Linked DNA regions of Homo sapiens. The protein of the gene in region 1 purifies or fractionates together with the protein of each later gene. This does not show direct contact. Each region holds a gene or a part of one and is shown on either strand. Other genes may lie near its edges.

Region 1 (5,558 bases):
TACAGAAATACAGAAACACACATGCAAATATAGTTTTACATTCCTTCTTGGACTCCTTGGAACCCTCCTGAGGACCCCAGGTTAAGAACCCTTGTAATAGACAATTGAAGAGTGGTATTATTAATGCCTTCGGCCTCTTTCAGCTGCCAGCAAGGACAGGGTAGCACACTGTACTCACCTCATCTGAGTGAGACTCTTCTTCCTCTTCCTTCCCCACTTCTTCCTCAGGCTCTCCACAGGGGCTGGCTGGTATATCTGCCAGGTAGGTTCCTTGGGGTATTTCTTCACCCTCTGCTGTATACACAAGCTCTTCCTGCTCCACAGTCTCTGAGTCCTCATACTCAAAAGGCACATTGCCGTAGCGCCGGGAGGAACCTGTCTTGGGGAACTGGAGCTGCAGCTGGGTGATGATCCGAGGGGGTAGGCGGCAGGCCCGGATCAACTCCAAAAAGACCCGCAGGGGAGTCCCCACATTCCCTCTGGGCATCAGCACTGGTGGGTTCAGCTCCGGCAGTTGCTTCAGGTCAGCCAGGGTGAAGGCTTCATTCTCTGCCTTCCAACTCTGCAGTTCCTTCCGGGTCTTGAAGGGAAAGGAGCCCAGACCTTGGAAAGGAGGGAGAATAGATCTTGAAACCCAGAAGCCTCCAGCAACACTTGAGCCAGAAATTGGCCAATGTTTAAATCTGTTAGCCTTTCCCTAGTAAACATCTAGTAAATCCCTAGTAAAAATCTAGGCCGACACAGTGGCTCACGCTTGTGATCCCAGCACTTTGGGAGGCTGAGGCAGGAGGATTGCTTGAGCTCAGGAGTTCAAGACCAGCCTGGGCAAAATGGTGAGACCCTTATCTCTACAAAATATAAAAAAATTAGCTGGGAGTGGTGGTGCACCCTGTGATCCCAGCTCCTTGGGAGGCTGAAGCAGGAGGATTGCTTGAGCCTGGGAGGTGAGGCTGTAGTGAGCCAAGATTGCACCACTGCACTTCATCTCGGGCGACAGAGTACCCTGTCTCAAAAATAAATAAATAAATAATAAAATAAATCCATTAGCCTCATGCTGTTCCTCCCTCTCAAACTTCTCCAGGTCTTTTCATCTCTCCCCAAGCGGAACTACAGAACTACCTAGTAGTTTCATGTCACTTCTCATCACCTTGGCTGGGCATACAAGTTTCTTCCAGCTCTGGCTCCTGATGAACTTTTTTTTTCTTTTTTTTGAGACAGATTCTCACTCTGTCACCCAGACTGGCGTATGCAGTGGTGCAATCTCAGCTCACCGCAACCTCCGCCTCCCGGGTTCAAGTGATTCTCATACTTCAGCTTCCCAAGTAGCTGGGATTACAGGCATGTGCCACCATGCCTGGCTGATTTTTGTATTTCTAGTACAGACAGGGTTACGCCATGTTGTCCAGGCTGGTCCTGGCCTCAAGTGATATCTACCCACCTGATGACCTTTTGATTCTCGGCTGTCACCAACTCCCACCTCCTGCATGTCTTCATACGATGTGTTCCAGCCACACCAAACAATTTTTCTCCTAATTTCTTTTTTTTCTTCTTTTTTTTTTTTTGAGATGGGGTCTCGTTCTGTCACCCAGGCTGGAGTACAGTGGCGCGATCTTGACTCATTGCAACCTCCACCTCCTGGGCTCAAGTGATCCCCCCACCTCAACCTCACAAGTAGCTGGGACTACAGGCATGCGCCACCACAACCGGCTAATTTGTATTTTTGGTAGAGACAGGGTTTCACCATGTTGCCCAGGCTGGTATGGAACTCCTGAGCTCAAGAGATCCACCCACCTGTGCCTCCCAAAGTGCTGGGATTACAGGCACGAGCCATTGCAACCCAGCCCACAATGAACAATTTAACATGCCCTGAAAGTTTTTCACGGGCTTTCAAAGCTGTGTCTTTGCAAACGCCATTTACCCTGAAACCCAGAAACACCATTCTCTCCTATTAACTCCTATTTATTTTTCAAGACCCAGATGGAAAGCCACATTTCATGATCCATCTAGGAAGTTAGTTTCTCCCTTCTCTGTCATCTCACAGCACTTGGTGATAAACAGTATAGGCTCTGGAACAGATGCCTAGGTTTGTTGTAGCTCTGACACTAACTAACTCTGTAACCTCAGGCAAGTCACATAACTTCGGCTTCCCTCAGTTTCTTCACCTATGAAATGGGAGAAACAACAGCTCCTATCTCATAGGACTGTTGAGAGGGGTAAGAAAACAAAAGGCTTAGAACAGCGCCTACTAAATACAGAGTGCTCAGTGAATGCTAACAATTAGAATGACATCTCTGTGGCAATAACCTTTTTCCAAATGTCTTCCTTTGTGGATTCTGAGCACACACTATGTCCAACTGTTCTCTGCATACCCAGCTAGTCACACTAGGTCTAGCAATGTAAGCATTTGTTGAATGTGTGAACTGGAGGGCTCTGCACTGTCCTGTTTCCCCATCAAACTGATTTCCCATGAAAGTGGGAGCTGTCCAGAGAAAAGATTGTCTCTTCATTTGTATCTTACTGAAAGGACTGGGTAGGAAGCACAGAGAGAGCAGGAGAGAAAGACAGTAAAAGGGTTAGAGACTGGATTTCCTTTTTTCTTTCTGTGTTAGTGCAAAATCAACCCCTTGGATAGAGAAAGGGTCTCAAAAGGGACCTAACAAAATGAAGGCTCTTCCGAATAAGCCTCTCCGGTTTATTTTTCTCCATGTATTGGACTAACTCCCTGCAAGTTGAGCCTGAAGCTCTGTCTAGAATATGAACTAAACTCATAGAGTCCTAACCAGAGGCCTGACTTATCCTCACCACTCCTCTGAAAAGGTGCCTCTGTTCCAGGCCCGTAGGCCCAGTCTATTAACTTTCTCACTCTTACCTGATGCCTCCGTAGGTAGCCGAAGTCTGCGGATGAGACAGCGACCCGGTAGCCAAGTCCCGTGAGAATCCAGCCACCGGCGGCCCGAGTACATGCGAATAAGCCTCTGAGCTTGAGCCAACCCCCTTACCGAGATGACGCAGCAGCAGGTGCGGGTCTGGATTGGAGTAGAGTCTCGAGTGGAGAGAGGCCGGACATCGGTGGCCGAAGTCTGAGAGAGAAGCTGGCCCTCAGCGGCTGGGTCGGTAGGAATTAGGGCAGAGTTAGGAGCGGCCTGCGGAGGGGCCCGCTCAGGCCGATGCCGGTAGTGGAAACAGAGGAAGCCACCGCCGCGCTCTTCTCGGAACTGGCTAAAATAGCTCCGTAAATGGGCCGAGCGCAACACGGAGGGGATACCGCTCACTACCAGGTAAACTGTCGCCTCCTCCTCCGCCTCGCCGGGCACCGCCATCTTGGATTGTCACATGATCAGCTAGAACCAAGTCTCGCGAGAACACCGCGAGCAACGTTCCAGCCCCTGCGTTGCGAGATTGTGAAAATTCTAACTAGTCCTTTGGGATTGGGGTTGTGGAACCTGGAGCTGGAAGATCCGAAGTCTTCTGTGTTCCTTTCCCACAGAGGGAAGCCGGCGATGATGGAAAAACTCACCTGGAAAATGGGGTCATAGAGTTCTTTCATAAAGCTCTCATGAGGACCAAATAAGAAGCCTGCGGGAGGGGTCATTTTTGAGGTATTTAGTTGTGGATATTGCACACCTAATCTCAACCTTCCTCAGTTCTGAACCTTTAGTCGTTCTTCCATTTATTTTTCCAAAATGTGTTGATGAACTCCCACAAATCGGTAAGAAAAAGATAACCCGGTAGAAAAATGGGCCGAAGATACTTCGCAAAAGAGGAAACACGCAGGTCCAATTTACAATGAAAGTGCTATGAGTTACTAGAGGCTTACGTTAAAGAAAAGATGCACAACTCAATAATAAAAGAAATGCAGCGAGACCCACTTTGCATCCACTATGTTGGCAAACTTTAAAACCTTAGAGTCGATGACAACATGGTGGAACTGAAGCTCTCATACACTGTTGGTGGAAATGTAAGTTGATACAACCACTTTGGGAAACAATTGGCGTTATCTAGTAAAAGCAAAGCTACACATCATTTGACTCAGCACTTGTAGGTAATATTTTATTTATTTTTGAGTTGGGGTCTCGCTCTGTCGCCCAGGCTGGAGTGCTGGGACCACAGATGCAACCCACTATGCCTGGCTAATTTTTTAAACTATTTGTAGAGATGGGGTCTCACTGCATTGCCCAGGCTGGTATTGAACTCCAGGGCTCAAGTGATCCACTGGCCTCAGCCTCCCAAAGTGTTAGGATTACAGGTGTGAGCCACGGTCCCCGCCTTTTTGTCTTTTTTTTTTTTTTTTTTTTTTTTTGAGATGGAGCCTCGCTCTGTCATCCAGGCTGGAGTGCAATGGTGCGATCTCGGCTCACTGCAACCTCCGCCTCCCGGGTTCAAGCAATTCTCCTGTCTCAGCCTCCCGAGTAGCTGGGACTACAGGTGCGTGCCACCACGCCCGGCTAATTTTTGTATTTTTAGTAGAGACGGGGTTTCACCATATTGGTCAGGCTGGTCTCGAACTCCTGACCTCAGGTGATCCACCCGCCTTGGCCTCCCAAAGTGCTGAGATTACAGATGTAAGCCACCGCACCCGGCCCTCTTTGTACGTTTTTTAATTGGGTTATTTGATTACTATTGATTCATTGATTCATAATTCAGACAAAGTCTACACATTATACTGGGTGATAGGAGGAACCTGTAGATTGAGAGACCTCAAACAAAAGCAAAAAATAAAGGGCCAAGCTCAGTGGTTCACGCCTGTAATCCCAGCACTTTGGCAAGCTGGTGTAGGAGGATCCCTTGAGCTTAGAAGTTTGAGACCAGCCTGGCCAAGTTGGCAAGACCCTTGTCTAAACAATAAAAAAAATGACTGCACATGTTTATCAGAAGACTTATTGATAATGTTGACTTTTACCCAAGCCCTGTGATCCTGGAAAACTAAGGCTTAAGAAATGCCTTCCCACTGTTTTGTGTTCTGGAACACAGCATATTGCAAAAAAACATCCTTCCCCAAGTGAGTTAGGTAAGACTGGTGTATGCCCCTCTGGTTCACCAATGACAAAGCCAGACACAGACTCCATATTCCAAATCTCCTCATGAAAGCTTTGAGGAACTTCTTGTCCCCACTGATCAGTTGGAACAAACTTTGGTTAAAACTTCTCTCCTTCCCCCAGCTTCCCGAACTTTGGCTTACCCTCAGCTTGAGCCAGCGCACATCTCCTCCTTAACAGCCTCTCCTGAGAATAGGCTGGCTTCAAGGTAAAGCATTATCTGATCTACTGTCCCATCATGCCACTCCTGATCATCCCACTTCCTCCCACCCAGTTCTGCCCTGTTTACTCCTCTGTATGAGAGAAGAACCCTTTTTGCCTAACCCTTGAGTCACTTGCAGATATTATGGTCAGAGGGTCCTCCCTGCTGCAATATTCTTCCTCCTTCTATTGCAATAGTTCCTTTCTTCCCTTGCAATAATCCTTTCAAATAAAATCTCTCCTGGCAGGGTGTGGTAACTCACACCTGTAATCTTAGCACGTCGGGAGGTTGAGGTCGGAGGATCACTTGAGCCCAAGAGA
Region 2 (4,408 bases), on another chromosome or scaffold:
GTTTTTCCTTTTTACCCCGTCCCACTCTTTCCCATATATATTACCATTATATGTTCTTTTTAGTTTCCTCAGTGACTTTTATATTCCATTTAAACTCAATTAACAATCTTTTGGATTGCAGACATAGTATGGGAAGGAGGTGCCAGCAGCTGAAACATCACTGTGATGAGGCTATCTTGGATTATTTTACCCTTCATATTTTCAAGAAAATAGAAACTTTGCATCTCTCATACTGCCATATTCTTACCATTTGTTTCTAGGAGAAATTCCAGATGCAGCTTTTATACATGCTGCAAGGAAAAAGCGCCAAATGGCCCGAGAATTGGGAGATTTCACTCCTCATGATAATGAGCCTGGTAAAGGCCGCCTTGTTAGAGAAGATGAGAATGATGCCAGTGATGATGAAGATGACGATGAGAAACGCCGGATAGTTTTTTCTGTGAAAGAAAAGTCACAAAGACAAAAAATTGCTGAGGAAATAGGTAACTTGATTTAATTGAATAGTAAGCCTATTGCATTGCCTTTTTTTGTTTGTTTTAAGGCAGGGTGTCATTCCATCACTTAGGCCAGAGTGCAGTGGTACAATCATAGCTCACTGCAGTGTCTTGACTCGTGGACTCAAACAGTCACCCTTGTCTCAGCCTCTCGAGTAGCTGGGACTACAGGTGTGCGTCACCACACCTGGCTAATTTTTTTATTTTTAATTTTTTTGTAGTTATGGGGTCTCACTGTGTCTGGTGTCTTAACTCTTGGCTTCAAGAGATCCTCCTGCCTTGGCCTCCCGAAGTGCTGGGATTACAGGCATGAGCCACCATGCCTCAGCCTCCCAAAGTGCTGGGATTACAGGCATGGGCCACCATGCCTCAGCCTCCCAAAGTGCTGAGATTACAGGCATGAGCCACCATGCATGGCCTCTAATGCTATTAAATGTGATTTGATATTATAGTCAAGTAAAAAGTATTTAGACTTACTAAATTTTATGTTAGAGGACTATTCTTGGGTACAAGTGTTTTATTGGAATTTTTAAAAACTAATATCATTGTGATAACTCATGTTCATTGAACATTTATTGTGCAGCTGGTATTGTGCTTAGCAGTTTACATGCGTAAATTCATATAGTTCTATATTCCTAGGAGGCATTAGATTTTGTTCCCTTTGTTGATGTCAAGTTTACAGAGATTAAGAAACACATCCAAGATTTTAACTATTACATTAATACTGCCTTTAGCTTCAAGGAATACTGTGTTTAAAACAGGCAAAGTCAGGACTACCAAATGAGAGAGGAGATCATATTAGACATTTTAGTAAGATTGAGTTAATAGTTTTGCTCAGTTCTTGTGAAATGTCAGGACAGCATCTTTTACCTCTTTGCTCTTTGGGTGTTACTTACTTTTCTTTGTTGCTCATGGCTGTAGGAATTGAGGGGAGTGATGATGATGCTTTAGTAACTGGAGAACAGGATGAAGAGCTCAGCCGATGGGAACAGGAGCAGATAAGGAAAGGAATTAATATCCCTCAGGTACGACAAAAGAATTAAACTAAAAATTAAAAGTAGATTAAAAAGCCTTTTTTATTTTGTTAAAGTAAAAAATTCCGTATTGAATCTTTGTCATTCATTTCAAGTAACAAAATCCCATGAGGAGACACACACACACACACACACACACACACACACGCACGCACGCACACAGAGACACGTAGGCTTTTAGAAGAAACTGCAGTGTGTTCGGCTTTTTGCAGTCAGAATGATGGAGGAATTTCCAATTTCTTAGATGAGTTTTTCTCAAAGTGGTCCTTCAGTTAGCATTAGCATTACCCGGTAGCTCATTAGAAACGCAAATTACCAAATTATCAGCCCCCAGAGACCTACAGAGTCAGAAGCTTGGGGTGGTGGGGCCAGCAATCTTTGTTGAACAAGCCCTCCAGGTGATTCTGATGCACACTAAAGTTTGAGAACCATTGCTTTAAATGGAATGTTTTTGTGCGTGTAGCTTATTTTTTTGGACTTTAAGAATTATTTTGAAGAAGATGGATTTCTCAATAATACAAAAAACTTGAGATCGATGAAAAATATCTTCCCAGTTATAACAATTTGTTTTATAAAAGTAAGTAATACAGTGAGAAAAATTGCATAAACGTAAACCTATTTTTGTTAATAGTGTTTTGAGGCAGAATTCGCATACATTTGGGTGAAGTTAAGAAAATGGCACAATAGAGAAAGTCTTGGACTGGATGTCAGGAGTCTTAGATTCTAATCTCTGGTTGCCCATTGATTCTGTGACCATGGGCAAGGCATTTATCCTCTTTCATTGATCAAAGGTGGCCTTAAATGATTTTTGATGTTTCTTCCAACTCTGAACTCTGTTTTTCTGAAAATTATTAGAAATAAATTTAGTGATTCCACCAAGAGATAGGACATTCATTCAATCCTGCTTTTATCTAATTTTGAAGAATTCTGCAATTATTACATAATATTTGGCAAATAGGTATAATTTTTGCTGTTGATTTTTTAACCCTAAAGGCATATTATTATTTTCAAAGTTTTAACTACCAGATTTCATCTATATCCCATTTCTTTTCTAGGTTCAAGCCAGTCAACCCGCAGAAGTGAATATGTACTACCAGAACACTTACCAGACAATGCCTTACGGCTCATCCTATGGCATTCCTTATAGTTATACGGCCTATGGATCATCAGATGCCAAATCTCAAAAAACAGATAATACAGTCCCTTTCAAAACTCCCAGTAATGAGATGACTCCCGTTACTATTGATTTGGTAAAGAAACAGCTTAAAGACAGGTAGGGCAGATCAACTTCTTAAAGACCTGTCCGCTAGCTTTCTGTTCCCTCAGGCAACATGTAGTCTGGGGTAGCAGATGCAGAATATCAGCAAAGAAGATTCACTGGCCCAGCTTCAAAAGCTAAACAGAAGATGACTTCATACTTTGTTCTGCTACCTTCTTGGATTACTTCTGTGGAAGCCTCGAAAAATTATAAAAAATGCCACTCCATGATCTTGTTGAAGACATTTCTGAGTTTGTACCTCTTGGACTCTGAAAAAGTGTAGTCACGCTATGGGGGGAAAAGCAAAACAGTGAGATTTTGGTTAGCCCACAAAACTGTGAAATCTGTAAACTGCCATTTTTTGTTTTTTGAGAAAAAAAGCAGTACAGAGGAAAAGATGCCATTCCAAATATTTTTATGTTCTAATAGTGGAGCTAAATGCATATTTTAATATTGCAAGAGTCCTGACACCATAGACCTTTGGATGTAAATGTGTTATATTTATCCTTTTGTGTTCCTAAGGTTGGACTCCATGAAAGAATTGCACAAAACAAATCGACAGCAGCATGAGAAACATCTGCAAAGCCGAGTGGACTCTACCAGGGCTATTGAAAGATTAGAAGGGTCTTCTGGGGGTATTGGTGAACGGTATAAATTTTTGCAAGAAATGCGAGGGTATGTCCAAGACTTGCTTGAGTGTTTCAGTGAAAAGGTAAGAATGCAAAAATACTAATCTCTTTGAATAAGGCAAAATTAGGGAGGTCTAGATGGCCTTGTGTAGAACATTCTATAATTCTCAGAAAGTACCCACTGAACTCAACATTAGAAGTGATGAAAAGTCATGCTTCATTTTTCTTCACTTCATTAGTGGCATTATCTCTTAAGGGCAATATAATACCTTTGTTGAAAACAGAAATAAAGATAATATCTTAAAGCACATTTAAATAAGACTTTGGAAAGTCTTATTTCAATATGGTGGTAGATTATTATTGGCCTGTGCTGAATTCTTAGAATATAAGGGACTCATCTGATAAAATTTTCTTTTCTGGTTCAGGTTTAAACTTATTTTTAAACGTTTCTACAAGCAATTCTAAATATGCATATAAAGTTGCAAATTTTTATTAGTTTTTTTTTTTTTTTTTTTTTTACCCTGGATGATGATTACCATTGTTGCTAATAGTTTTTATCTAAGTAAGCCTATGCTTGATTTCTTTCAGAAACCATTTCATTGGATATCATTTTTTCTAAGGTTTCATTTCTCCCAAGTTTGTTTTTTTCAATAGGATAGTCAGTTGACAAAATGTTTGGCATTCTTATACTATTTATTGTTTACATTTAAAATTAGGTGCAAACAGCTAGTTTCTCAAATGACCTCCTAATTGATTTTTTTTCTTTAAGATAAAAGTATTGGTTGAGGCACTGGTTTATAAGCATTTGTGGACTTTGCAGCCTTATCTTTAAAAAAAAAAAAATTAAAACTGTGGTCCTTAAATATCCTGTCTGAACTTTGGATTGGAAGGCACATTTCCCTTTGTTATTGGCTATGTAGATTAGCTTAGAATCTGTAAGCATATAGTGTGGTTAAATATGTATTTCAACTTTTGTTATCTTTGTTGATTACT

The links. The genes of interacting proteins can lie anywhere in the genome.
Region 2: the proteins of GPATCH3 (region 1) and PAXBP1 purify together in Homo sapiens (affinity purification with mass spectrometry; one large-scale study listed by BioGRID and IntAct). This does not show direct contact.

The regions. Positions count from the first base shown.
Region 1 is NC_000001.11:26,897,123-26,902,680, forward strand, and holds the start of GPATCH3 (G patch domain-containing protein 3), read right to left. Parts: upstream 3,346-5,558; 5' UTR 3,321-3,345; coding exon 2,870-3,320; intron 604-2,869; coding exon 179-603; intron 1-178. UniProt on the Homo sapiens protein: Involved in transcriptional regulation. It is able to activate transcription from the CXCR4 promoter and therefore it might control neural crest cell migration involved in ocular and craniofacial development.
Region 2 is NC_000021.9:32,758,170-32,762,577, reverse strand, and holds part of PAXBP1 (PAX3- and PAX7-binding protein 1), read left to right. Parts: intron 1-260; coding exon 261-482; intron 483-1,415; coding exon 1,416-1,519; intron 1,520-2,583; coding exon 2,584-2,801; intron 2,802-3,308; coding exon 3,309-3,498; intron 3,499-3,889; exon of another isoform or gene 3,890-4,408. UniProt on the Homo sapiens protein: Adapter protein linking the transcription factors PAX3 and PAX7 to the histone methylation machinery and involved in myogenesis.